Linked DNA regions of Homo sapiens: regions 2, 3, 4, 5, 6 and 7 are each linked to region 1. The links come from fine-mapping of genetic effects on gene expression. A gene starts in region 1. Each other region holds a variant in brackets. All regions are shown on one strand. Distances are between the middles of the regions.

Region 1 (4,099 bases):
ATTAAAATGCACAAATAGACCGGATGCTGTGGCTCACGCCTGTAATCCCAGCACTTTGGGAGGCTGAGGTGGGAGGATCACTTGAAGCCAGGAGTTCAAGACCAGCCTGGGCAACACAGTGAGACCCCCGTCTCTACACAATTTTTTTTTTAAATCAGCCGATCATGGTGGCACACGCCTGTGGTCCCTGCTACCTAGGAGGCTGGAGGATTGCTTGAGCCGCAGTGTGAGGCTGCAGTGAGCCGTGATTGCGGCTGCTGCACTCCAGCCTGGGCAACAGAGCAAGACCCTGTCTCAAAAAATAATAATAATTTAAAAAGCACGAATATTCTAGCAATACTTCATTAGTATACCTACAGATTATAATAGATTTTTAAAAACCAATAATCCAACCTTTGCTGTCAAGGAAGATATATCCATCAAAACGATCTCTAAAAAGAAGGATGTCATCAGGATTCCTAAAATTAATGTATGCTCTTGAGTAGAGATGAGGATAAAGACTGAAATAAGAGATAACAGTGAAAATGGTCAGTGAAAAATACAATAGTCCATTAATTTAGCCTCTTTTTCCTTTTCTGGGCACAACAAACTACTTTAGATAAAACTTTTGTGCCAAATCATCTCAGTTAATTGTAACAACTTGGATATTCTTTAGCAAAAACAAACGCAAAACGTTAACTTTACAAGGCAGAACTCAGGTCCCTTCTCCACTGCCCAGAACCGGTCCTCCGAGGCTGAAACCCTAAGGCAAGGCCAGGGCGCACTCCCAGAGGAACCCGTGGCGCCGAGAGACTCTCCTGACTTGGGGACCTTCTCCGGTATTTAAAACCGCACTGGCTGCGGCACCAGCGTGGAGGCCACAGGAAGAGCCGGCGCCCCCCGGCCCCGCAGCGCCCCGTCCGCGGACGAGCAGGGAAGCCCGGGAGGCGCCGGGCGGGCAACGCTGGTCCTTTCAAAGGCACCCGCTTTCCTAAGCGTTAGCCGTCTGAAAATCATCCGCATTTTTCATGTAAACCACATCTGTGTTTCTTTGTTGGTGGTATTTTTCTTTGACGGAACGGACACGTTTTACTGAAATGTATTTATTCAAAAAGCTCACACGACTCCCATATAGGAGAAATCAGGGTAAGGAACGTAAGGCAACGAGACGGCCACCGCCGCCGAGCTCTGGGTTCCGCCCTCTCTTCCTCCCCTCGGGGCGGGCCTCACCTCAGGTCGGCGGCGAAGAACTCGAAGTAGTCGTGTGCTGGCAGCGGGCGCAGCTGCTCCTCCAGCTGCTCCTTGGTGAGGCCCGGAGGCAGGCGGCGGATGACCACCTGCGGGGAGCGCGCGGCCGTTCCCACCGGGGCGGAGCGTGGACAAGGAGCTCAAAAGGCACCGCGTACCGCGCTGGGAGGCCCGGCCCCCGCCCCTCCCTCCCCTCCCTCCCCTCCCTCCACTCAGGGCCGTCCTCTCCTCGCGAGGTTTGCGCGCCCCGCCCCCGTCCCCACCTTGCTCAGGGCCGTCCTCTTCTCCTCGCGAGGTTTGCCCGCACCGCCCCCGCAACCGGAGGACGAAGTTGGCGGCGTCTCAGCCTCCTGCTGCTGCGAGTCGCGGTGGAACTGCACTTCTAGGGCCGACAGCTTCTCCCTCCCGCTCGGGCCCCGCGCGGCAACGGCCGCCCGAAGGCCTCCGGCCCCCTCCTTTTCCGAGCGCATGCCGCACTCTCCGCCGAGCCGCAGCCGCCAGCCCCCGACGAAACCTCGCGAGAGCTCGGCCGCCCCAGCCCCGCCCCTCCTCGAGCCGCGGCGGTCGGGGCCGCCCACGAAGGGGTCAGGCGCTGCGGGACTAGTCGGGGTCGGGGTGGTGACCTCCGGCCACACAGCCTGGCTTTCCGCCGGGTCAGGCGGCCCCTCAGGGAGCGGCGGCCGCGGTTTAGGGCGGCCCCGGAAGCGGGGCGCCGGCGGCTTTGGTCCGGGCGTGGTGGGAGGAGTTCGCGGACAAGCCGCCCTCCCATCCCAGCACCGTTTTTATCCCACTCCCCCAGGCTCTCCGTGGCCGGGGCGCCATGAAAGCCGGGTTCACATTTGAATTCTTAATTTTTTTGGAGACAGTCTCGCTCTGTCGCCCAGACCGGAGTGCAGTGGCGCGATCTCGGCTCACTGCAGCCTCTGCCTCAGCCTCCTGAGTGGCTGGGACCTACAGGCACGCGCCACCACCCCTGGCTAATTTTTTTGTTTTTTTAAAGTAGAGACGGGGTTTCACCTTGTTGGCCAGGATGGTCTCGGTAACTCCTGACCTCAAGTGATCCGCCCACCTCGGCCTCCCAAAGTGCTGGGATTACAGGCATGAGCCACCGCTCCGGGCCCTTGCACATATTTTTTTATGAACACACAGGCAGCAGCACTTTGATTACAGTAACTTACATGGAAGTTATTTTAAAATGGCTTTCCCCTTCTCTTTTTCATGTAGGCTGCATTTTTCATCTGCAGCACGCTTTCTCTCAAGAATCTCAAGCACACACAAGAAACCAGAGAGTAAAATCACTGAGGCGTGAACACATCCAGAGACCAAGGGCGTCACTGGCAGAAAAGCTTTTAGGCGGATCCACGGCCCGAGAGCCACCCTGCCCAGAGACGCGGTTTCCTAGGAGCAGTTCACACGCGGCTCTGCAGCACCCACAAGCGGGGCCAGGGGCTGGTTTTCATAGTTCACAGTCTGCAGGGATCTTAACAAAAACATGGCCGTGGTAAAAGTGCCTAGACCAGGCTTTCGTCACAACTCAGTGAGTAGGAAGACTAGTTAGGCTGATGAAAAGCTCTGATGATGTGTGATTAAAAGTAGGAAAACGTGGTTGCCAAATAAAATATTTTACTATATAGTCAGGGGGAGAGATGGGGATAAAAAAATGTGGAAACCATTTATTTTAAAATTTTGACTGTTCCTGCAGTGTTTAAAATATAGGAGATATATTCTGATTATCTTTAGAAAGAAACTGCTCTCAATCTATTTGTATGTCTTCCCTCTGGTTTTAAAATATTAAACAATCATCTAACTCAATATTTAATTTTACCTCTAGTCATGTTACTAGGTTAGGATAATAAAAAGGACTGTGAACTTCACATCTGCCATCTATAATAGATTCTTATTGTAGCAATCTTGCACCAAGGGGATTTCTTTATTAACTCTGCCAAATTTTCCAAAATTACCAAATGGAGAAAAGAGCTGGTCCCATCTGTCACCAGGCACAACCAGGTCAGTAACTTAGGGTATTTCTTGTGTTCATGTTTTGCCCTCACCACTGCAAAGCCCTGTTCTCGGCCTGGTGCCTCTGCACACCTCTGAAGCCAGGTTGGCCTCAGCCAATGTGAGGGACCCTTCATTTGACCTTCCCCAGAACCTTGAGTATTTCCACTTCTCCCTTCACTGCACTGTACCCTAAAGGGACTCACATGTTTGCTGGATGTGTATATTTCGTAAACCTAGCCAGCAAAATGTCCAAATGTTTTTCCCCCCAAGTCAATTTTTTAACACCCTTCTGATTCTTTACTTCCTGTTATTGCAAAGTTCTGAAAAATGATTTTGAAAAAAAGGTAGGATTTTAGAATTCAGCTGTTTGATGAAATTATCTTTAAATAAAACCATATGAATTTTAAGATACAGTGAATGAAATACACTTGTAAAATAGCTTATGATTTTACATGACAAATTATATCACAAAGAAAAGCTAGCTTCCTACACATTAGCCAGCCTGTTGAAATGCTCTGTTTGATACATGTACAGAACTTTACAGCCAAAGCAAAGCAGGAAGAAATATCTCCAAATCCTTCTTCATGTGGGCTTTTAGTATGTAACTTTACTTTTGCTTAACTGAACACTTCCATCTGTGAATGTGGCCCTGGGCTACATTTTACTTGGTAGCCCCTATCTCATTGGTAGATGACAGTGACTTGAAGCTGGTGACCGTAACACTTCCCAGTATTTCCTTTAACGATAACACAGCCACTGTAGTTAGCAAACAGGACACCTTTTTAGGATAAACTGTGTCCTGAGATACTGAAGAATTGGGTAGTAACAGGAACAATACTTGGCAGTACGACACATTGTTTTTACTCTCAGA
Region 2 (4,099 bases), 110 kb after region 1:
GGAAGGAGTCCCAGCTGCCACCCAAGGCTGTCACTCACAGCTGCCACCCTCAGGGAAGGAGTCCTAGCTGTCCACCCACAGCTGTCACCCATGCTGTCCACCCATGGCTGTCACCCACAGCTGTCATCCACATGGAAGGAGTCCCAGCTGTCCACCCACGGCTGCCACCCATGCTGTCCACCCACAGCTGTCACCCACAGGGAAGGAGTCCTAGCTGCCACCCACGGCTGCCACCCATGCTGTCCACCCACGGCTGTCACCCACAGCTGTCACCCACAGGGAAGGAGTCCCAGCTGCCACCCACGGCTGTCACTCACAGCTGCCACCCTCAGGGAAGGAGTCCTAGCTGTCCACTCACAGCTGCCACCCATGATGTCCACCCACGGCTGTCACCCACAGCTGTCCACCCACAGCTGTCACCCATGCTGTCCACCCACGGCTGTCACCCACAGCTGTCCACCCACAGCTGTCACCCATGCTGTCCACCCATGGCTGTCACCCACAGCTGTCATCCACATGGAAGGAGTCCCAGCTGTCCACCCACGGCTGCCACCCATGCTGTCCACCCACAGCTGTCACCCACAGGGAAGGAGTCCTAGCTGCCACCCACGGCTGCCACCCACGGCTGCCACCCACGGCTGTCACTCACAGCTGTCACCCACAGGGAAGGAGTCCTAGTTGCCACCCACGGCTGCCACCCATGCTGCCCACCCACAGCTGTCCACCCACGGCTGTCACCCACAGCTGTCCACCCACGGCTGTCACCCATGCTGTCCACCCACAGCTGTCACCCACAGGGAAGGAGTCCTAGCTGCCACCCACGGCTGCCACCCATGCTGTCCACCCACGGCTGTCACCCACAGCTGTCACCCACAGGGAAGGAGTCCCAGCTGTCCACCTACGGCTGCCACCCTCGGCTGGCCTATGGTTACCTGCAACCCACTGACCACTCGACTCACGTCTGCTCTTGGACTTGACTGACGGCAGGGCCCATGGTACAGAATCTGCAAACATCAGACATGTTGCTAAAGACCCAGGAAAATCAATCACCCCCAACAACATGCTCTGGATTTCAGGGCACCACAGGGCTCCAATCAAGTTTTGCTTCTTAAGATCAGACCAGACAAGGCAGTTAAGCAGCAGCTCCTTGGCATCTGTCCTGAGGACTAATGAAACACTGACAAGGGCTTGCACACATGAAGCAACACTGCATGGAAGTGAGCTGCAGTCTGGGGTCCAGTGTTGAGAAGCAGTGCGGACTTCCACCGTGCACCTCTGTTCCGGGATCCAAGCCATGGCACCACACTGCATTTTGTGATTTCTATATTAAGTGGAGAATTATTTTTTATACTGGGCTAGGTTTGGATGTTTGGTATTATATAGTTTCTACTTATATTCTACAGAAAGTAAATACCAACGCCTATTTTTGACTTTGATTATCCAGATTATATTTGGGTGTTCAGCTGCTGCCTTAATCAATATTTTGGCCCAATATTAAGTTTAACGTTTTGTTTCTTAGAAATGCCTTGAAATGTCACCAAGTGATATCCTGAAATGTGGAGGCCGTTACATAGAACAGCTTACTATGTTGCATGCAATATGTAAAGTATTTGCTATATGACACATATTAACTCAGTCTTTAATATTCATAATTCTTTTCCTGTGTCCTTAACTCTAAATCCAAGCTTTGATTTTTCTGTTCTGCCCTCCCACAAAAGGC[C/A]GTATCTTCAAAACCAAGCAGCAACTTCGTTCTCATTCTGCAGAAGAGTGGTTTACAAACAAATCTCCAACCACTTCAAATTCACTCAACCTTCAACCTTTGGAGGGCAAATGTGCTTGCAAACATTGATTTCCAGAAAAGGTAACTGTGTCTCCAGTACCTTCTGTGTAGTGCAAATCACTCAAGAGCTGAGCTAAAGAAGCTGGGAGTCACCACCACCAGGAACTGCTGCGTGACCTGCTTAAGTCGACCCTTCCACTGAACAAAGCCAGAATCCTGGAGGCCATCTTGCATATACTGAAGAGCCCACCCAGGAGTCAGGAATTTTGAGGCTGTGGTCAAAAAAATCTGTCAGACCCCCGAGCCAGCACTCAGAGGGCTTCTCCTGAAGGCACTCAGGATGCCAGCGGTGGGGTCTTTGTGGGGGATGGGGCAGGTGGGCAGTCTTCATAGGAGCTGAAGTCTTCACCCTCAGGAAAACGTGGATCAGAAATAACCCATCCTTCAACAACTGCCAGGTTACAGCAGAGCAGGGGACAAGACAAGGAAGAGCCCTGCGGCCCAGGTTCACACAGTTGTGAAATTAGCTTAATGTCACAGTGCCTAAAAAACCCTCAAGTCGCGAAATTATCTTAACGTGGCCCTGGACTGATGACATCTCAAGATGCTGCCAACTTTCCAGTGTCTCAGTGCACCAAACATCTTGCAAAGTGAATCAATCCTGCAGAGAAGACACGACTAGCACCACAGGAACCTTGGAGCAGATGGCTCAGACACAGATGATAAGACTCACTCTGCTTCAAGGCACAAAAGACAAAATCGGAAATAGCTGCAGAGTACAGGAAACCATAAAAGTTTTCAATACAGAAAGAATGTTTACAACATTTGCAAAATTTGACCGTATGCTGGGCCATGAAAAAGTGTCCACATGTTTCAAAGGGCTGAAATCATACAGATAATGTTCACAGTGGCAGAGAGCCAGGAATTCATAACAAAAGATAACTGGGAAATCCCATGTTTGGAAACTAAGCAATGCAATTCCAAGGTCAGGAACAAGACAGGGATGTCCCTGTGGCCTTCCCTGATACAAGAGGAGCTCTTTGGATTAAGTGGATTAATGTGTTAGGGGTCTTGAACTGTCCACCTAAAAGGAAATTCAAAGGAACAGGCTCTCCAGAACAAATAAATTTAAGTGAGAATAGCACGGGATTGCATGCTATGATAGATCACAGGCACACTGGAGGGGCCAGGGCAAAGGGGAGATCTTTAAAGACAGAGAGAACTCCACAGAAGCTGCTTTGTAACAAAAATCACTGGTTAGCAGAGCTTGTCCCAGAGCTGGCGTTAGCTCCTTGTGCAGGCCGCTCACCTGTAATACCGACCTGTCTTGAGGAATTTTCGTGCAATGCATCCTAATATGGGCGAACCTGAGGCCCGTGCAGGGGTGCCTTGAGATGAGGCTTGTCCAGGTGTTTGTGTATGAGGGCGCCCCGTCATGGCCTCCCCACCCCATTTTGTTAGAGTTTGATATGAGTGAACCTATTTTGGTACTAGCAACTTTCACAGAACAGAAGGAGTTCAATTTGCTGGTAATTAGTCATGGTGGTGTTAACTGCAGCCTTACTCATGCAATCATTTCTCAAGAACCCTATTCCTGGGACGATTCACTTAGGTCTCAATCCCACTCTGGAAATAGTCTTAAAAAATTGATGCAGAAGCATGTGAAAGCTGAGTGTATAAACACATGAATTCCAGTGTCACTGGTTTACTGTTGCACAGAGCTGGAGCTGGGCCCACTCCACACAGAAAGTGATGGGGTGTGGTGCAGCCACTCTTGTGATGACTGGAAAGACAAACCCAGCAAGATATGCACAAAACTGCTCCTTTTACCAGTAAGTGGGGAGCTGAGCCCAGAAGATACCTTGGAAAAACTTCCTCTTACTAGCATGTGAGAAGCTGAGACTGGAAGACACCTTGGTAAAGTTAATTTGTTATAGGTGTGTTAAAGCAACTAAATATGGCCCAAGAAGGACTCTGTACTTCCAGATTTATGAGTCCTTGTGGATAAACTGCAGCCTAACTTAATAGGTAGACAAGATTGAAAACCTAATTTAGGAGTCTGAGCCTGTAACAACAGCTGAGTCTTGGCCAATTCCAGCAGCTGTACTTCAACCACTCACCCTGCTGAGTGTCCAAACTGTGTTCAAATAAGGCAAACCCTGAGCTGTAACCAATCCAGCTGTCTGTACCTCACTTCCAATTTCTGTACGTCAGTTCCCTTTCTTTGTCTATAAATATTCTTCCACTACATGGCCGTGCTAGAGTCTTTTCGGATCTGCTGTGATTCTGGGGGCTGTCCAATTTGTGAATCCTTCATTG
Region 3 (4,000 bases), 28 kb after region 1:
TATAATTGAGAAAATCTGTCATTAGTACATCTGCCCAGTAAGAAATACTAAAGGGAGTCCTTTATGCTAAAACAGAAGGATACTACATAGGAATTCAAATCCACATTGTTGCAGAAGAGTCAAACTCTAAGAACTCGAAGTGCAGGCTTCCAGGTAACAGGTAGATTTAAGATTTTTCTGATTGGTTGAAAGAGTTATTATCAATAGTAAGCAATGTCTGGGTTATGATAAGAGGTTGCAGAGACCAAATTTTATCATGCAGATGAAGCCTCCAGGTAGCAGGCTTCAGAGAGGATAGATGGTAAGTGTTTCTTCTTATCAGACTGAAGGTCCATTTGATGTTAATGCTGGAGGGCGTAAAGAGGAGTGTTGGACCCCCACTTCCCATCATGGCCTGAACCAGTCTTTCAGGTTAAATTTAGACGGCCCTGGCCTAGAGGAGGAAGCCCATTTAGATGGTTGGGGAGGGTCTTCAAATTTTATTTTTGGTTTACAACACGAAGAAATGAGAGTCTGATAAAAATAGCTACATTGGTAATTATGAGACAGTATAAAATGTGCTTGTTTTTAACTCTTCTATCTGATTTAAAAGACAACAGAATAAATAATAATAACAGATCTGTGCTGATGGACTTATAATGTGTAAGATGTATTCTATATGACACTAACAGCACAAGGAGGCAAGAGGAAACAGCTATATCGGAGTAAGGTTTGGGCGTACTATTAAAATTAAATTGGTATTAATTCAAAGTAGGTCGTTTTAAATTAAGGTGCTAATTATAATCCTAAAGATAACCAACCTAAGAAAATAACTCAAAAGATATAGTATAATAAAAAAAGGGGATTAAAATGGGACATTATAAAATATTTACTCAACACAAAAGAAGAAATACAGGAACAAAAGATGTGATGTATAGACAATAAAGAACAAAACGCCAGACATAAATCCTATCTTGTTAGTAATTAAACATAAATGGATCTAACTGTATGTTGTCAACAAGAGACATGCTTTAGATTCAAAACACAAGTTGAAATTAAAAGAATGAAAAAAACCACACCATATAAACAGTAACAAAAGAGAGCTGGTGTGCCTACAGTAACATCAGATGAAACAGACTTTATAAAAAAAAGTATTATTAGAGATAATTAGTGATATTTTATAATGATAAAAGGCTCAATCCATCAAGAAAATACAACAATTATAAACATGTACACACCTAACAACAGAGACTCAGAATATATGAAGTGAAATGTGCCGGAATTGGAGGGAGAAATACACAATTCAACAATAAAATCTGGAGACTTTAATACCTCACTTGCAATAATGCAGAGAATAAATAAGTAGAAGATCAATGAGGAAAGAGAAGACTTCAACAACACTATAAAATCAGATGTAACAGGTATCTATGGAACACTTCACCCAACAAGAGCAGAATTCTCAAATAATCTGGAACAATCTATAGAATGGCTCATAAAAAAGCCTCAATAATTTTTTTCTTTTTTTTTTTTTTGAGATGGAGTCTCACTCTGTCGCCCAGGCTGGAGTGCAGTGGTGCGATCTCAGCTCATTGGAACCTCTGCCTCTGGGTTCAAGAGCTTCTCCTGCCTCAGCCTCCCGAGTAGCTGGGACTACAGGCGTGAGCCACCACACCCGGCTAATTTTTGTATTTTTAGTAGAGATGGGGTTTCACCATATTGGCCAGGCTGGTCTTGAACTCCTGACCTCAAGTGATCCACACCCCTCTGGCCTCCCAAAGTGCTGGGATTACAGGTGTGAGCCACTGCGCCCGGCCAGCCTCAATAAATTTAAAAGGACTAAAATCACACGAAGTATGTTCTCTAACTACAATGGAATTAAGTTAAAAAACAACAAAAGAAGAAAATTTGGGAAATTCTTAAATATGTGGAAGTTAAATGTCAACATATTCTTAAATAACCAATGACTCAAAAAAGAAATCATAAAGGACACGTAAAAATATTCATCCAATTTCAAACATTTATCCAAACACAGACAAGTTAAGAAAATGCAGAGCTGCTCTGACAGATAAGTAAACTTGAAAGAAAAATAATGCTTATCTTGATGAGCTATCATGAGGTTTTTGAGATGTATCTCAACTGGTCACCCAGGCTGGATTGTGGTGGCACAGTGACCATCCTGCCTCAGTTTCCCGCATAGCTGGGATTACAGGCAGGCACCATCAAACCCAGCTAATTTTAAATTTTTTTTTTGTAAAGATAAGGTCTCACTATGTTGCCAGGGCTAGTATCAAACTCCTGGCCTCAAGCAATCCTCCCACCTCAGCCTCCCAAAGTGCTGGGATTACAGGTGTGAGCTACCACACCTAGCTTAATGTGAGAATTTAATGACAAAGTTTGT[T/G]AGATTTGGAAACACTGAAGGTATTGTGTCATTAATTATCATTGATTCTGATTCCCAGCTAGGAACTAACTAATAACTATTCTGTTTCTGAGAACCCAAAATATCAAATAAAAATTACCAGACTGTAGCATATGCTCATAAAAACCAACTCATAGTGAATTATTGAGATTTTTTTTTTGGTAACAAATTATCATATTGATACATAGGGGAAATATGCAGATACTGGAGCTGAGCTTCAGAAGAGAACTGGAAAAGGTCTCACTCATCTTGGTGAACAGGATGGAGAGACCTGGACTGAGTATGAGGACCATTTAGGTGGATCCATAACTGGGTGTGCAACTCTACTCTGGAAGGTTATTTTCTAGTAATATATTAGTGCTATGGACTGTTTGTGTCCCCTCTGCCCCCCAAATTCATACATTAAATCCCTAACCCCTACTGTGCCTGTACTTGAAGATAGGGCCTATGAAAAGATAATAAAGGTTACATGAAGTCCTAAGAGTATGGCTTTTACCCAACAGGGCTAGTGTAAAGCTCTTATCCAACAGGGCTAGTGTAAGGCTCCTTTCCAACAGGGCTAGTGTAAGGCTCTTATCCAACAGGGCTAGTGTAGGGCTCTTATCCAACAGGGCTAGTGTAGGGCTCTTATCCAACAGGGCTAGTGTAGGGCTCTTATCCAACAGGGCTAGTGTAGGGCTCTTATCCAACAGGGCTAGTGTAGGGCTCTTATCCAACAGGGCTAGTGTAAGGCTCTTATCCAATAGGGTTAGTGTAGGGCTCTTATCCAACAGGGCTAGTGTAAGGCTCTTATCCAACAGGGTTAGTGTAGGGCTCTTATCCAACAGGGCTAGTGTAGGGCTCTTATCCAACAGGGCTAGTGTAGGGCTCTTATCCAACAGGGCTAGTGTAAGGCTTTTATCCAATAGGGTTCGTGTAAGGTTCTCATCCAATAGGGCTAGTGTTTTTACAAGAGGAAGAGACACCAGAGCTCTCTCTGCCATGTGAGGACACAGCAGGAAGGCAGTTATCTACAAACCAGGAAGAGACTCCTCAATAGGAACTGCACTGGCCAGCACCCTGATCTTGGACTTCTCAACCTCCACAACTATGAAAAAATAAATGTCCTTTAAGTCACCCAGTCTGTGGTATTTTGTTATGGCAGCCCTACTGACTAATACAGCTAAGGAGCTATGATACTTACCAAGTTACTATGACTACTGACTGAGGTGGGTACTAATTTAAACGCAGAACTGAGTGACAAAAAGAGCCTAACAGTTTGCAAAGAGACCAAACCTAACAGGATGACATTCAATACAGATAAATATATGATTCCACCCCTGCATACAAGTAAATAAACACAAGTAGCTAACTTTCACTGAGTGCTTTCTATGTGTAAGACACTCTTCAAAGTCTTTAATTGGTATTATCTCAATTACTTCTCACAATAAGCCAGTGAGTAAATTTTGCTATTATTCCTATTTCTCAGGAGGCTAAAAAACTTGCCCAACGTCACATGGCTGGGAGTGGAAGAGCCAGGAAGAGTCCAGGAGGTATGACTCCAGACCAGGCCTCTGGACCACTGCACTCCCACTACCTCTCCAGGCAGGGATGCAGTCATCAGTC
Region 4 (4,099 bases), 55 kb before region 1:
TATGCTTATTCCAAATATATTGCTAAGATTAGCATTAGAGACAGGAAAATATTCACGGGTTTTGAAACTAGAAGGACCCAAACAAATCCATGAACCAGCTCTGCATACTCTCACCGAGCCTTAGTTTTCTTACACAGAAAGTGAAGACAATGCTATTTGCCTTGTGGCATCTCTGTGAAGTTAAAGAAGACACCGATTGTACACGCAGCAGTACAAGGACAGTGGAAAGCTGGGCCCTAACCAGCTCTAGGGACAATCACCATTGAATGCCCCATGATCCTACTCTCAGGATGCTTGTATGCCATATGCCATGTCAGTATCACTTACTCAGTGAACACATATTTGTTGATTATAAATTACTTCCGTACTCTTTTCTTTGTTTTACATGTTCAAATATCTGTAAAAAAAAAAAAAAAAGGTACAATTATGAAATTAAAAGTTAACTAAAGGGGGATGTTTTCACTATCTCTGAAATTTAACCCACTAAATCCAGATTATAAAGCAAGGAAATGTCTTACGGCCCAACACTTGCCATCCATATTTTTTCAAAGTTAGTGGGCAGGGCAGGGTAGTGGAAGTGAAGGAATCAGAGCTCTGATGGGTGCACATTGTCTTCCCTACAAATCCATTGCTTGTCTGGCCTTCCTTCCTTATTGGGGCTGCTCTATCCTTTTCGGCACATTTGAACTGCTCCCCTGTGAGCTATTCTCATTTGCTTCACTTCTAAATCTGAATTCCATGGGACCCGCATTTAAGGAGAGGGGAACCACTTTGGGACTGGAGGAAGTTCACCTTATGAGTTATACCTGCCTCCTTCCTCTACAGTGAACGGTCTCTGGTGTCCCTGGGTGTTCAGTTTCTTTACACTCATGTGTTACTGACTGTTCAGGTGGCAAATGGCCCATGACCTTTATGGTATTAAAGAGAAAAAAATAAAAAGCTGTGTTCCTTTTTTTTTTTTTTAACTTTTATTTTAGGTTGGGGGGTATATGGGAGGGTTTGTTATACAGGTAAACACGTGTCACAGGGATTTGTTGTACATGTTATTTCATCATCCAGGTATTAAGCCCAGTGCCCAATAGTTATCTTTTCTGCTCCCCTCCCTCCTCCCACCCTCCCCCCTCAAGTAGACCCCAGTGTCTTTTGTTTCCTTCTTTGTGTTCACAAGTTCTTATCATTTAGCTCCCATTTATAAGTGAGAACATGCTGTATTTGGTTTTCTGTTCCTGCATTAGTTTGCTAAGGATAATATCCTTCAGCTTCATCCATACTAATGCAAAAGACATAATCTTGTTCTTTTTTATGGCTGCATAGTATTCCATGGTGTATATGTAGCACATTTTCTTTATCCAGTCCATGATTGATGGGCATTTGGGTTGATTCTATGTCTTTGCTATTGTGAATAGTGCTGCAATGAATATTTGCATGCATGTATCTTCATGGTAGAATTATTTATATTCATCTGGGTATATATCCAGTAATGGGATTGCTAGGTCGAATGGTAGTTCTGCTTTTAGCTCTTTGAGGAATCACCATACTGCTTTCCACCATGGTTGAATTAACTTACACTCCCACCAACATTGTATAAGTGTTCACTTTTCCCTGTAACCTTGCCAGCATCTGTTGGTTTTTTACTTTTTAGTAATAGGCATTCTAACTGGTGTGAGATGGTGCCTCACTGTGGTTTTGATGAGCATTTCTCTAGTGATCAGTGATCTAGAGCTTTTTTCTATAAGCTTGTTTACCACATTTATCTTTTTTTTTTTTTTTTTTGAGCCGGAGTCTTGCTCTGTCACCCAGGCTA[G/A]AGTGCAGTGGCGCGACCTCAGCTAACTGCAAGCTCTGCCTCCTGGGTTCATGCTATTCTCCTGCCTCAGCCTCCCAAGTAGCTGGGACTACAGGCGACCACCACCACACCCGGCTAATTTTTTGTATTTTTAGTAGAGACGGGGTTTCACCATGTTAGCCAGGTTGGTCTCAATCTCCTGATGTCATGATCCACCTGCCTCAGCCTCCCAAAGTGCAGGAATTACAGGCGTAAGCCACCACACCCGGCCCACATGTTTGTCTTCTTTGGAGAAGTGTCTCTTCATGTCCTTGGCCCACTTTTTAATGGGGTTGTCTTTCTCTTGTAAATTTGTTTAAGTTCCTTATAGATGCTGGATATTAGACCTTTGTCAGATGCATAGTTTGTAAATACTTTCTTCCAATCTGTAAGTTGCCTGTTTACTTTGTTGATAGTTTCTTTTGCTGTGTAGAAGCTCTTTAGTTTAATTAGATCCCACTCGTCAATTTTTGCTTTTGTTGATATTGCTTTTGGTGTCTTTGTCACGAAATCTTTGCCTGTTCTTATGTCCAGGATGGTATTGCCTAGGTTGTCTTCCAGGGTTTTTATATTTTTGGGTTTTACACTTAAGTCTTTAATCCATCCTGAGTTCATTTTTGTGTATGGTGTAAGAAAGGGGCCCAGCTCCCAGCACCATTTATTGAACGGGGTCTTTTCCCCATTGCTTGTCAGAAAAGCTGTTTCTAAGGCTTTGCCCAACATACCTTTAACTTTTGACCACATCTTTCCCCCGGTCAATAGGCTCCAGGAAATGGGACAGGATTCTTGGAAATAAAGAGCTGACCCTGAGACAACGCAGGTGAACACAGACTAGCTGCTGCATAATAAGTAAACAAAATGTGTGTCTTTCATTCAATATTAAACAATGATAGACTGAGTATGTAAGAATGTTACCATCACAGGTATGGAAGTGCCTAACTATGACTTAAATTGTAGAGCCTCAGATTTTAGATCTGGAAGAGCCATGGGTTTTAATCCATGCTGGGAGAGGCTCAAGGTTACTCTGGAGAAACATGTAGTTTGGGGGGGCTGGAGACTGAGGGGAGGCTGGAGACTGAGGGGTGGGCTCCCATTCCCCAGCTCCTTCAATGAATCTATTTTATACGTCAGTTATTGGAAAATGATTCAAACAACTCAACCCAATTCCCTATTATTTGGTCAAAGCCCTCAGCCCTCAGACTTCTTGCCACTGTAGCTGTGGGCTCCCCCTCTCCACCTGCTTTCCTGCTCAGGTTGGGGCAGCCAAAGACTTTCTCTTCCTGGGGAGAGAGTTTAGGGAGGGACCATTTTTTGATTATTTGAGGGTGTGGTTCAGTTGTAAACAGTATAAGTTTTAGAATTTGTGTTATTGTGATGGCAATGACCAACTGCAAAATATTTCCCATTTGCCTTGTCATAAGAGCACGTATTTTATGCAATTGAAGTTTTTGGATCCTACTTATTTACTTTACTTTATTAAGAATAGTGACATTTGAGCAGAGTTCTAATTTTGCATCAGAGTCAAAAGTGAAAATGAAAGGAACTGACCCATGAAGGAACAGGTGTGAGCTATTTACTTCATTCCTGCCCGTCCTGGTTGATGTTGAGCTCTTGCCCTGCATCCCACTTTCAAATGTGGTAGAGGCCTCACCTAGGAAAGACCCTCTCCACGCTGGCTTGCTCTGCTCACCCAACTGTACTTACTTCTCTGAATCCCCTATGAACACTGTTTTCTAGGTTGAGTGTGTTTTCTGTAATAAAAAGGTATTGTTGCACCACTTACTGAGGACTTTTTGGATGCCATGCTAAGCATTTCATAGTCACGAGCTCATTGTACAAACTACCCTTTATAACACTCCTATGAATTTATATTCCCATATGAATTGGCCTGAGGAAGTGGCGTGCTGGAGAGATTAAGTAATTGAATGACAGCATACAGTTAATTACTGAGGGGATTTGGGTTTGGACCTGGATCTGTGATTCAAACACTCATGTCTATAACCACAAGTGCTGCCACATCATTTGCATCAGGATTTAGAATCCCTGCTGGCAGGCCTGGGAAGATGCATTGTAACCAGATAAGAGATAATTACCACATTTACTGAGTTGTGAGAACCACTGTACTGCCTCTGAGAGAATGCCAGGCGCCCCTGTGTTTGTCTCAGTGTCTCCAGCTTGAATTGCTTCACCCCTGGCTCTCGGCAATGCTGCTCCTCTCTCCTGCATGGATCACCTGCTCCTGGAATTCATTCTCCCATTTCTTAGGTTGCCACTTTA
Region 5 (4,000 bases), 43 kb after region 1:
GTAAGGCTTACAGGGATTCTTTCTGAATAATAAAAATATTCTAAAATTGACCATGGTGAGGTTTGCAAAGCTCTGTGAATACACTAAAAGGAATCAAACCATACAGTTTAAATGGGGGAACTGCATGGCATATAAATTATACCTCAATAAGTTTTTATTTTTTTTTTTAAATCCAGATTAGTGATCTGTAAATGTCACTTAATAAGTTACTATATGATGTCTGCCAGCAAGGAATGTGCAATTTCATGGAGATATGAAGTATACAAACTGAAATATACACAATTACATAGCAATGTACTTTGAAGCAAACAGAACACAAAACCATTTCCTGGAAAGAAACAATGTACGCTAATCAAAGTTTCTTGGTGTAGGTCCAAAACACTGCTGAAACACAGAAAGGAGAAGAAAAATTATTCCACTTTTAGGGAGTAGCTTAAGGCATCAAATATGAGAAGGAAGTTTCAAGCCAGCCTATTTTGGATGCAGGCATCTGCGGATACAATTACAGCTTGCAACTAAGGGCTCAGAAATGTCTCAGAATCTTTTTTGGTTTTGGTGGGCAAATTAAATAAATTGGCAACCACAATTGTTTTAATATAGTAATAAGTAAAAGAAGATAATGTGTTTCTGCCACGTAATGAGGGCAATTCTCGCCGCCGTTACTGAGCTGTGCTCACAGTACTACTTACTGAAGACTGTGACATTTCCCAGTCGCTGGAAGGATCTTTGAAGCCACTTTCGTCCTTCAAGTATTTTTCAAATAATCTTTTATTGATGGGCTCTTCCATGTCAAGAACATCAAGGGCCTGCTGGTGCTCTTTTGCAGCATACTACGTGGAAAACAGAAGTGCCGCTCATCACTCACGACTTCTAACACGAAACACATGATCCGAATTTTTAAAGGATAACATATACTATGCCCATTATTTAAATGTGAAATGTCTAAAGTAGAATTTTCTTCATGCATGTCAGCATGTGGTAAACGAAGAATCAGTATTTTATAGCAAACATGACTAAGGAAAGGAACACTTCCTCATGAAATACTTTACTAACCTGCTAAGCTCCATCACTAAAATTCTCACACATATTTAAGAGATGCATAACACTCATTTTATTCAACCAAATAAAAATGAAATTATGAGCATACTTACATGGCACCTAGCTGCAAGGTAACGACATGCTTCATACAACTAGGAAAGAAATTAATTTGTTTAAGTAGTGGTCAAAATAATATGTATCTTCACTTTCAAAGAAAGCCATAAGCATAAAATAGAACTAATTTCATAATTTCTCCTTTTACTCTTGCAGTTAAAAAAAAAATCCAGTCCTGTTAAACCATATTTATTATGAACCTACTGTTTACTAGGCACCAAGGATTCAAAAGCAGTAAGGCCCTGCCCCAGGAGGTTACAGTAGGGGAGATGTGAACTAAGCACAACAGGTAAGCATGACGAAACGGGGCAACAGAAAGCATCAACCAGGTGGAGAAGTAAACATCTGCAGGAGAGCGAGTAAGTGAGGCAGCGAGTAAGTGGTCAGGCAGAGGAGTGGAGCACTGGGTAGCTCTTCAAGCACTGAGTGTGAATAACTGCTGGGGGTCCAAGGAGATCGCAGCAGCTCCACTTCAGGCACTGAGTGTGAATAACTGCTGGGCGTCCGAGGAGATCGCAGCAGCTCCACTTCAGGCCCTGAGTGTGAATAACTGCTGGGCGTCCGAGGAGCTCGCAGCAGCTCCACTTCAGGCCCTGAGTGTGAATAACTGCTGGGCGTCCGAGGAGCTCGCAGCAGCTCCACTTCAGGCACTGAGTGTGAATAACTGCTGGGCATCCGAGGAGATCGCAGCAGCTCCACTTCAGGCCCTGAGTGTGAATAACTGCTGGGC[G/A]TCCGAGGAGCTCACAGCAGCTCCACTTCAGGCACTGAGTGTGAATAACTGCTGGGCGTCCGAGGAGATCGCAGCAGCTCCACTTCAGGCCCTCAGTGTGAATAACTGCTGGGCGTCCGAGGAGCTCACAGCAGCTCCACTTCAGGCACTGAGTGTGAATAACTGCTGGGCGTCCAAGGAGATCGCAGCAGCTCCACTTCAGGCCCTGAGTGTGAATAACTGCTGGGTGTCCAAGGAGCTCACAGCAGCACCACGTGACTGGAGCACGTGCTCCAGGTATTGATGGTGGTGGATTAGACGCAGAGTGGAGAGAAAACAAGGAGGGCCTCACAGACCTACTGATGCATCTGACTTTATCCTGCAGCTAATGGGAAGTCACTGAATGACTTTGTGGGAATATAACCACATCCGTGTTTTAAAGACTACTCACTCCTGTAATAGTTCACAAGATGAACTTGTGACAGGGAAGATAAGAAGAGAGAAACTGTTACTGGGGAAAAGAGACAAGAAGAGAGGCTGTAACAGAACAGACAAAAAAATCAAAGGCCTGACACGTACGAGTGGGGAGGAAGAGGAATATCCATGATTCCAGAGCTGTTTAGAAAACAGTCTTCAGAATTTAGAGACTAGATGGGAGATGGGGGAAAAAGAAGGTGACAGATTAGGTATAAGACATTTTCCCTTCACTTTCACTAAAAAAAAACTGGGCCTACTGTGATGACTCACATCTATAATCCCAGCACTTTGGGAGACCAAGGCGGGAGGACTGCTTGAGACCAGGAGTTCAAGACTAGCCTGGGCAACATAGTGAGGCTCTGTCTCTACCAAAAAAATTTAAAAATTAGCTGGGTGTGGTGGCATGCACCTGTAGTCCCAGCTATTAGGGAGGCTGAGGCAGAAGGATCACTTGAACTCAGGAGTCTGAGGTTATAGTGAGCCACGATCATCCCACTGCACTCCTGGGTGACACAGAGAGACCTCAAAAAAACAAAAACAAAGAAAAATTGCATCAAGTTAAATAATTTCAACAGAAATGGAATATACACCTAAAACCCTAATGACTTTTTTTTTTTTTGAGACAGAGTCTTGCTCTGTTGTCCAGGCTGGAGTGCAATGCACGAACTCAGCTCACTGCAACCTCCACCTCCCAGGTTCAAGTAATTCTCTGCCTCAGCCTCCCGAGTAGCTGGGATTACAGGCGCCTGCCACCACGTCCGGCTAATTTTTGTATTTTTAGCGGAGATGGGGTTTCACCATCTTGGTCTTGAGCTCCTGACCTCATGATCCACCTGCCTTGGCTTTCCAAAGCGCTGGGATTACAGGTGTAAGCCACCGCGCCCGGCCACTAATGACATTTTTTTTAAAGCTCTGAAGAGCTTTAAAGTTCATACCATCACTTACTTTGTCCAGTTTTCGTGACCGAAGTGCATGGGCGGCTCTGTGATATTGTGCTGTCAGGTAAAGACACTGAGCCAACCAATAGATGTCCTGGGGTTCTTCTGGAGGGAAAAATTCACATAAGTGGTCAGAGGTACAAGGTGAAATAGAAAACGAATTTTAAGATTAATCAGAAAACCAGTTAGCATTTTGTCACTTACCACGAGAGAGTGAAGCTACTTTATCTGCCCAAAATAGAGCACTTTGATACTGTTGCTGCATACCAAAAAAAAAAAAAGGTGGTAACTGCCCTGTTATTTTAATAGTCTTAAACAGTTATCTAATATTATTATAATTCTATGTAATATATTAATATAATTCTATGTAATAAATCTTCATCTCAAGACAACAATTTGTTACATCTCTATCTTACATCTCACGTAGGGTAAATTTTAGTTCAGTGTCGCAATACAAACATTCCTGTAATATCTTTGTATATGCAACTTATGAAGGTAATTTTTTAAAACTCATACACTGTAAAAATGTATCGTGAAACATACAAGTGAAATGCAAGTGAAACAGCAAAAGCTAGTCATTAACAATTCATGTGTGATTTATATAACACTTTCAACGAGCTGTTAATGAATCCCAAAGTGAAATTTAGAAGACAGAACACTATACTCAAATACCTTATATAACACAGTGGCAGTTTTAATAACACTCAAGTTTAAAAACACACAC
Region 6 (4,099 bases), 51 kb after region 1:
CAGCAAAAGTGACCTTTGCTTCAGTTCCTAGTAAGTTTCTCATCTCTATCTGAGACCTTATCAGCCTGCCCATCTCTCCATATCACTATCAGCATTTGGGTCACAACAATTTAAAAGTCTCTAGGAAGTTCCAAATTTTCCCCCATCTTCTTGTCTTCTTCTGAGCCCCCCACATTTTTCCAACCTCTGCCCATTACCCAGTTCCAAAGTTATTTCCGCATTTTCAGGTATCTTCATACGAATGCCCCACTTTTCAGTACCAATTTTCTGTATTAGCCTGTTCTCACATTCCTGTAAAGAAACACCTGAGGCCAGGCCCGGTGGCTCATTCCTTTAATCCCAGCACTTTGGGAGTCCGAGGCAGCTGGATCATGTGAGGTCAGGAGATCAAGACCAGCCTGGGCAACATACTGAAACCCCATCTCTACTAAAACTACAAAAAATTAGCCGGGTATGGTGGCAGATGCCCGTAGTCCCAGCTACTCGGGAGGCTGAGGCAGGAGAGTCACTTGAACCCCAGAGGCGGAGGTTGCAGTGAGCCAAGATTGCACCACTGCACTCCAGCCTGGGCAACAAGAGTGAAACTCCGTCTCAAAAAAAAAAAAGATAAAAAGAAACACCTGAGACTGGGTAATTTATAAGAAAAGAGGTTTAATTGGTTTACTGTTCTGCAGGCTGTACAGGAAGCATAGCTGCTTCTGCTTCTGTGCAGGTCTCAGGAAACTTACAATCATGGCGAAAGGCGAAGGGGAAGCAGACACAACTTACCTGGCCAGAACAAGAGAAAGGGAGAGAGGGGGCAGGTGCCACACACTTTTCAACAACCAGGCCTCACAAGAACTCACTCACTATACAGTCCCAAGTAGAGGATGGTGCTAAACCCTTCACGAGCACTCCACCCGCACGATCCAACCACCTCCCACCAGCCCCACCTCCAGCAGCAATGGGCACTCCACCCGCACGATCCAACCACCTCCCACCAGCCCCACCGCCAGCAGCAATGGGCACTCCACCCCCACGATCCAACCACCTCCCACCAGCCCCACCTCCAGCAGCAATGGGCACTCCACCCCCACGATCCAACCACCTCCCACCAGCCCCACCTCCAGCAGCAATGGGCACTCCACCCCCACGATCCAACCACCTCCCACCAGCCCCACCGCCAGCAGCAATGGGCACTCCACCCGCACGATCCAACCACCTCCCACCAGCCCCACCTCCAGCAGCAATGGGCACTCCACCCACACGATCCAACCACCTCCCACCAGCCCCACCGCCAGCAGCAATGGGCACTCCACCCCCACGATCCAACCACCTCCCACCAGCCCCACCTCCAGCAGCAGGGATTATAATTCCACATGAGCTTTGGTGGGGACACAGATCCAAACCACATCACATTCTAATAGAATGACCTGGAGTCTCTATATTTGGTTAGATTTCTTGTGCTTTTCTTCCCTTCTATACCTGTAATAGCCTACAGCAAAATCATGTTTACTGATTTTAGAATGATGCCCCTTAGGTTTGTCAACCTTAGATAGAAAGATTCAGAAAATA[C/T]GAGTTAGCATGGAGTTTATTTGAGCACAAGCCCTGAGGATGACCACCTGGGAGCACAGATTTGAATTTCCCTGAGTATGCACCCAACCAGCAGCAGGTACCTGGTTGGGGGCGGGGGGTTTAAGGAGGAAAGAAAGGGCAGTTCCTGAGTTGTTTATCAAAAATTTACATTAAAACAACGTAAGCTATTGATTGACTATACATTTTTCTTTGTCTCACAGACTCCAGAAACATGAAAATAATGGGTGACACAGCAGTCAGGAACAAAATGCCTTAAACAATTGCCCCTGTGGCATGGGGAGCAGAGTGACTGAAGTTAGTCCCACACTCATGTCCTGATACATTTTGCATCCTTCAAATAGTTCAGACTGCTCTGAGCTATTTTTCTTTCCTCAGGTTAAACCTTCCATCGTTGTATTTCCTCTACCACACTTACTAATTGGTTAAACTGATAGGGCTCATAAATATTGTGTATTACCTCACACGACAAAATGGACTTTGCAAGGGGTGATTAAGTTAAGATGGGTTATGTGGGTGGGTATGATGTAATCACAAGAGTTCTTACAAGTGAAAGAGGGAGGCCGGGGGGTCAGAGTCAAAGAGACTGGAAGACGCTACGCCGCTGGCTTTGAAGATGGAGGAAGGAAAGAAGGAAGAACAGTGAGCTGGGAGTGCAGGTGGCCTCCTGAAGCTGGGAAAGGCCAGGGACGGGATTCTCACCTAGATGCTCCAGGAGCACAGCGCTGCTGACACCTTGATATCCTGCAGAGACCCATTTCAGGTAGTGATCGGAGGTTAGCAAACAAAATTAGAACTCTGCCAAATGTGTACATGCCAGAGGCTGGCTTGTCTAACAGAAGACATTCTGTTTATTTTCCTCCCCTTACATTCTCTCCCAGTATTTGCCCTTGTTAAAGAAGCTAAAATTTCAGGACCCTCTAAAGTTACTACAAGGGGGAAGTTAAGCCCTGGAGACTGAGTCACAGAGCATGTTTGCAATTCTGCAATACTGAGTTTTGTGAAATTCAGTGTGTAAAAATCTTTGTTTTGTGGTTTTAAAAGATAATTCCGTCCTTAAACTAGTTCCTGAAATACGGTCAGGAAAACAAGACTTGGATTTTCAGTATGACCAGAATATTAAACATGCCAAGTGGTTTCTCAAGAATTTAAATTACTCTGAAAGGAAGAGAGAACAATCACCCTTCTCACTGATTAGAGTGAGGTGGTATTGTCGCCACAGGAGAGCAGTTTACAAAGTTAGAGAATTCTGTTGGCTGAAACTGCAAAATGTTGAGGCTTTGAAAGAGCAAAGGCAGTGATTAAGAAGTCAATGATTGGCAGATACGTCTTTGTTGTCATTTTACAAAGACAGTTCTCAAGTTTGGAATTAACATCTATCCAAACATCAAGTCTCAATTCATCTTGCATTTCTCCACACCCTGTGGCTGCAAATCTGCTCCAGCGCTGCCTTGGAGACCTGTCCAGGTGCACCTGGACGCCACAGACGGGGCCATAAGCGTCGCCTGCAGAGTTGGGCAGAGGAAGCTCAGAGCTTCCCCGCCGGGACATGGGCACCACAATAACACTCTTAAAAAGAAAAACCCTCTGGGTTAATACCTTTCCTTTGAATTAACCTCCATCCAGGTAAAAAATGATTGATAATTAATGTTTGTTAATTAAAATTGAGGCATTCTGTTGGCTTATAAATGTTAAGCTTCGTGGCACTTACTGATGTGGAAAATAAGACCCAGCAAGGCTAACTTACCTAAGCAAGTTCCCAAAGCCGCACCTAAAACCAAGTCCCTGAGCTGACAATGGCCTCTTGGGTGTTGTACCCATTTGTGAGTATACCTGGGGTTTTAAGGCAAAAGCAGGCTGTGGGGACACCAAGAACATCAGCCTGGGGTTTGCAGCTTCCCCACTCTCCATGCCTCTTCAGAGACAATGCCCTCTGGGTGGCAGTGATCGAGTTCTGCCAGTGCGGGGAAGCTCTGCGGGGTGAAGGGAAGCCTGGAGAGGAATCTGCCAGGCCTGGCGTCCCAAGCATCACCTCCTGAAACTTCAGTAAAAGGACTGGGAGGCTACGGGAAGCAAGCTGAGCCACCCGGACAGAGCATCCTGAGGTGCCGGACGCCTTTTCTTCCTAGCATCCTGTCCCACCACCCCCAGGACACTGCAACACTAGTCATCCTGCACAGGCTCCCGCTGCAGCTTCTCAAAGACTGCTGTCCACAGACACGGGTCCAGCCCCGTCGACATGAGGGTAACAGCCAATTCAGAAGTGTCATAATCTCTAGCTGGTTATCTGATTATCTTTTTAGTATATCAAATTAACTGAATAATGCCCTCGTTTTGTGTTAGGTGGATATGAACTTTGTCATGAGCCATGAAAGTGTTCACTGGTCTCAATTTTGATGTCAAATTTGGGAAAGCACTTTCTAGTACAAGTTGTTCTTCTGATTGACTCATCCACGTGTACTTTGGTCTCCTGTGCCAGTGTTCTGCCAGGAGCGGGTGACGGAGTGCAGATTGTGGAGGGCCCTGC
Region 7 (4,075 bases), 21 kb before region 1:
ACCAGGGGGTTTAACTTAATTTTCTTTTCCTTGGTATGAACCTGACCAATGGGAGGGGTGGGAACAGGCTCAGCAGGCCCCTGGACAGGCTGCCTGGAGCCAGCACGCATAGCTCTGTTTGTTTTTCTTTTTTTTCTGAGACAAAGTTACACTCTTGTTGCCTAGGCTGGAGTGCAATGGCGCAATCTGGGCTCGCTGCAACCTCTGCCTCCTGGGTTCAAGTGATGCTTCTGCCTCAGCCTCCTGAGTAGCTGGGATTACAGGCATGTGTCACCATGCCCGCTTAATTTTTGTATTTTCCGTAGAGATGGGGTTTCACTATGTTGGCCAGGCTGGTCTCGAACTCCTGACCTCAGGTGTTCCACCCGCCTTGGCCTCCCAAAGTGCTGGCATTATAGGCATGAGCCACCGCACCGGGCCGACAATTCTGCTTCTTACCAGGGCAATACCTGTATACACAGATGGAGCATGGAGCCTGACCTTAGAAGTACATGACAAATGCCAGGCTCCCGGGAAAGTAGCTCCTGCACACAGCGCCTCATTCCCACCACAGCACTGTGAGGCTAAACACAGGAGCAAATGCTCCCCCACCTCAGGTCGGGGGAAACACCAGGCCATTCACCACTGCTAAAATAAGCCAACTGAAGACTGAGGACTCCTATGAGCAACGCCCTATCAAAAAGACGCATGGCTGTACTTTGTGCACCCCGAGGTCCAGGCAACCCCAGAGAACTGGAGTATTCTAGAGGTGTTCATTCAAGGGTGAAGACAAGAAGGCTCTCCTCTGGCTTTCAGCCTTGACTTCACTGAAACTTTTTTTTTTTAGAGGTAATTTTGCTTTTCTTGCCTAGGCTGGAGTGCAATGGCATCATCTTGGCTCACTGCAACCTCCGCCTCCCAGGTTCAAGCAATTCTCCTGCCTCAGCCTCCTGAGTAGCTGGGATTACAGGCGCGCCACCACGCCCAGCTATTTTTTGTATTTTTAGTAGAGACAGGGTTTCGCCATGTTGGCCAGGCTGGTCTCGAACTCCTGACCTCAGGTGATCCACCCGCCTCAGCCTCCCAAAGTGCTGGGATTATAGGTGTGAGCCACCATGCCCAGCTACACTGAAACAGTTTCAAAGTGAACATCGTTCATACACACAACAACCTGGAAGGATCTGAAAGGAATTAGACTGAGTGAAGAAAGCCACTCTCAAAGCTCACATACTGTGTGTTTCCATTTATCAAGCATTCTTGAAATGACAAAATCACAGAGGCAGAGAACAGACAGTGGCTGCCAGGGGTTAGACATGGGGAGGGAGGTGAGTGGGAACTGGAACCCTAGGCAGCCCTCAGTTTGCTAGGAGGCCAGGGTGGGGCCTGGTGCTGTCAGAAAGGTGATGCCATCTGTAGTGCTGCGCTGGGAAAATGCAACCTGAACAAAAATTAGCTCCTGAAAAAAAAAAGTTGTTTGCTTGGCTAAGGGGGTAACCACAGTCCTGTGCTCACCGTCCGTGCAGATCTAACTTACAGGTGTTTGTGAGCCATGGGAATATTCACCAATAATCAGAATGTTGTTAATAATGTGGAAGAAACCTCCATGAAATATCATTAAAACTTTCCTTCCTGTCTCAAGGGTAAATTTAATAATCTTATTCTCAAGTGAATCATATAAACGTGCTAGTTTTATACTAAATAAAATCTTTCTTTTTCCTGGTGAAAAATAATTTGATTATCTGAGAAAAGATGATGACTAGTCTCACTCTGGGATCTGACTTTCAGGAAAAACTGCTCTTGAAAATGCTCAAAGCACTGCGTTCCCCAAGACACAAGGCCAAGTGGGGGTGACATGGTCAGCATGCAGCCTGGACCTTAAGACAGCCAGACACATTTTTCTTTTTGGGTTTAATAAAAACCTTGTTTGCCAGTCGCTCTTTTCTGGGTGCTGGACTGTCGTCACACCTCTGCGCTCTTCCCAGTCTCTCCATGGCCTCCCC[C/T]GGAGCCCCGCTGTCCTGGCTCCCCTTCTTCCCTCTGTCTTGGCCAGGTCCTTTCCCCCATCTCTGCTCATCCTCACTCCTTCTGGAAAGCCGTTCAGGCTCGTGGTGAGCTCTGTGCCTCCTGCCGTCATCCACATGGTATCTTTGTGCTTCAGATTCTTGTTCTTGAGATCTCTCCACATCCCTGTGCTCTTTATCACTGCCGCTGTGTGACCTATGATTCAACACAAATGATCAGCAACTGCAGTAAACCGCCGGTTGGCTGCCCACCCTCCTTTCTAGACCACAGGTTCCCAGACAACAGGGACCCATGCGAAGTGCTCAGCGCTGCACTGCTGAGGCTGCACTGCGATGGGCACACAGCAGGCGTTGATAAAAACCACTACAAAGAGGAATAAATCATAGTAATAGTATCTGTCATTTCAGTTGAGTGACAGATAGGCAATATGCCTTATACTAAGGTACTTTTTTTTTTTTTTTCTGAGATGGAGTCTCGCTCTGTTGCCCAGGCTGGAGTAAAATGGCGGGATCTCAGCTCACTGAAAGCTCCGCCTCCTGGGTTCACACCATCCTCCTGCCTCAGCCTCCCGAGTAGCTGGGACTACAGGTGCCCGCGACCACGCCCGGCTAATTTTTTGTGTATTTTTAGTAGAGACGGGGTTTCACTGTGTTAGTTAGGATGGTCTCGATCTCCTGACCTTATGATATGCCCATCTTGGCCTCCCAAAGTGCTGGGATTACAGGTGTGAGCCACCGTGCCTGGCCATGCTAAGGTACTTTTTATACATATTTTCTAATTCTCAATAACCCTCCAAAGTAAATACCTTCTTTTGACCAGGCATGGTGTCTCACGCCTGTAAATCCCAGCACTTTGGGACGCCAAGGTGGGTGGGATCACCTGAGGCCAGGAGTTGGAGACCAGCCTGGTCAACATGGTGAAGCCCCCTCTCTACTGAAAATACAAAAATTAGCCAGGTGTGGTGGCATGTGCCTGTAATCCCAGCACTCTGGGACGCCAGGGGCAGGCAGATCATTTGAGGTCAGGAGATTGAGAGCAGCCTGGCCAACATGATGAAATCCTGTCTCTACTACAAATACAAAAATTAGGCCAGGCACAGCGGCTCACACCTGTAATCCCAGCACTTTGGGAGACCAAGGCAGGCAGATCTCCTAAAATCAGGAGTTCGAGACCAGCCTGACCAACATGGAGAAACCCTGTCTCTACTTAAAATACAAAATTAGCCAGGCATGGAGGGGCATGCCTGTAATTCCAGCTACTCAGGAGGCTGAGGCAGGAGAATTGCACGAACCCAGGAGGCAGAGGTTGTGGTGAGCTGAGATCGCACCATTGCACTCCAACCTGGGCAAGAGGAAAACTCCGTTTCAAAAAAACAAAAAAAAAACAAAAATTAGCCAGGCATGGTGGCGGGTGCCTGTAATCCCAGCTACTTGGGAGGCTGAAGCAGAATTGCTTAAACCTGGGAGGCGGAGGTTGCAGTGAGCCGAGATCGTGCCACTGCACTCCAGCCTGGGCGACAGGGCGAGACTTTGTCTCAAAAATAAAATTAAAATAAAATAAAATAATAAAACAAAATAAAATAAACCTTCTTTTCTACAGATAAAATGACTGAGACTAAAGTGGTCCAGTGGCTGTCCTGGGAGCCCAGGTGCACATCCATCATGATGTGCAGAGTAAAATTAACTGACATTTAATAATGGCAGATTAATTATCTTTATGCATTTATCAGAATATTAAATGAATAGTAAATAAATGGCTGCTTCGCTCATTTGCCAGGGCTGTTGGGGACCATAAGGATCTGTAACCAAGTATGAATTCACAGCAGACACGTGGCAGTAGGTCCTGCTGTGTCATCAACTGTCACAGTAACAACACCGGTAACATCATCACAGTGCTTCACAATCATGGATTTGATAATCATATATAAATTTTATAAACAAAGCAATAAACCAAAACTCCCAAGAAGTAGAAAAAATACTTCATCAACTCTGAACGAAAGGCAGTGAGAAATCACACCTACGACTATGGCTCTGGGAAGCCGGCAGCCTAATCGCATTAGTCTTCCCACCTAAAATCC

The links. PIP is the estimated chance that this variant, and not a neighbour inherited with it, causes the effect.
Region 2: its variant is fine-mapped to the expression of UPF3A in whole blood (INTERVAL, PIP above 0.99).
Region 3: its variant is fine-mapped to the expression of UPF3A in whole blood (INTERVAL, PIP above 0.99).
Region 4: its variant is fine-mapped to the expression of UPF3A in whole blood (INTERVAL, PIP above 0.99).
Region 5: its variant is fine-mapped to the expression of UPF3A in whole blood (INTERVAL, PIP above 0.99).
Region 6: its variant is fine-mapped to the expression of UPF3A in whole blood (TOPMed, PIP above 0.99).
Region 7: its variant is fine-mapped to the expression of UPF3A in thyroid (GTEx, PIP above 0.99). The same link has a PIP of 0.9 or more in tibial nerve.

What each region holds. Positions count from the first base shown.
Region 1 is chr13:114,279,238-114,283,336 of GRCh38, reverse strand. UPF3A (UPF3A regulator of nonsense mediated mRNA decay) reads right to left here and starts at 1,736. Exons shown (of 10, transcript NM_023011.4): 1 at 1,491-1,736; 2 at 1,210-1,316; 3 at 394-500. The coding sequence starts at 1,697. It overlaps LOC105370384 (a long non-coding RNA gene), which reads left to right and starts at 2,268. Exons shown (of 4, transcript XR_007063887.1): 1 at 2,268-3,234. RefSeq lists silencers at 719-928, 1,309-1,488, 1,719-1,988 and enhancers at 1,068-1,755, 2,209-2,508.
Region 2 is chr13:114,173,265-114,177,363 of GRCh38, reverse strand. No RefSeq gene overlaps it. Among named protein-coding and RNA genes, the nearest start is that of CFAP97D2, 3.9 kb to the left of the region's middle. The variant C/A (reference allele first, on the strand shown) is at 1,721.
Region 3 is chr13:114,251,200-114,255,199 of GRCh38, reverse strand. The region is part of intron 12 of CDC16 (cell division cycle 16); the gene reads right to left. LOC105370384 (a long non-coding RNA gene) reads left to right here. Exons shown (of 4, transcript XR_007063887.1): 3 at 3,864-4,000. Among named protein-coding and RNA genes, the nearest start is that of MIR548AR, 8.7 kb to the right of the region's middle. The variant T/G (reference allele first, on the strand shown) is at 2,378.
Region 4 is chr13:114,333,855-114,337,953 of GRCh38, reverse strand. It overlaps LINC01054 (long intergenic non-protein coding RNA 1054), which reads left to right and starts at 4,006. Exons shown (of 3, transcript NR_126391.1): 1 at 4,006-4,099. The variant G/A (reference allele first, on the strand shown) is at 1,805.
Region 5 is chr13:114,236,180-114,240,179 of GRCh38, reverse strand. CDC16 (cell division cycle 16) reads right to left here. Exons shown (of 18, transcript NM_001078645.3): 2 at 3,481-3,535; 3 at 3,284-3,381; 4 at 1,152-1,190; 5 at 690-830. Among named protein-coding and RNA genes, the nearest start is that of CDC16, 3.3 kb to the right of the region's middle. The variant G/A (reference allele first, on the strand shown) is at 1,883.
Region 6 is chr13:114,228,312-114,232,410 of GRCh38, reverse strand. No RefSeq gene overlaps it. Among named protein-coding and RNA genes, the nearest start is that of CDC16, 4.5 kb to the left of the region's middle. RefSeq lists an enhancer at 3,578-4,079. The variant C/T (reference allele first, on the strand shown) is at 1,555.
Region 7 is chr13:114,299,849-114,303,923 of GRCh38, reverse strand. It overlaps UPF3A (UPF3A regulator of nonsense mediated mRNA decay), which reads right to left. Exons shown (of 10, transcript NM_023011.4): 9 at 1,899-2,193. Among named protein-coding and RNA genes, the nearest start is that of CHAMP1, 13 kb to the left of the region's middle. The variant C/T (reference allele first, on the strand shown) is at 1,980.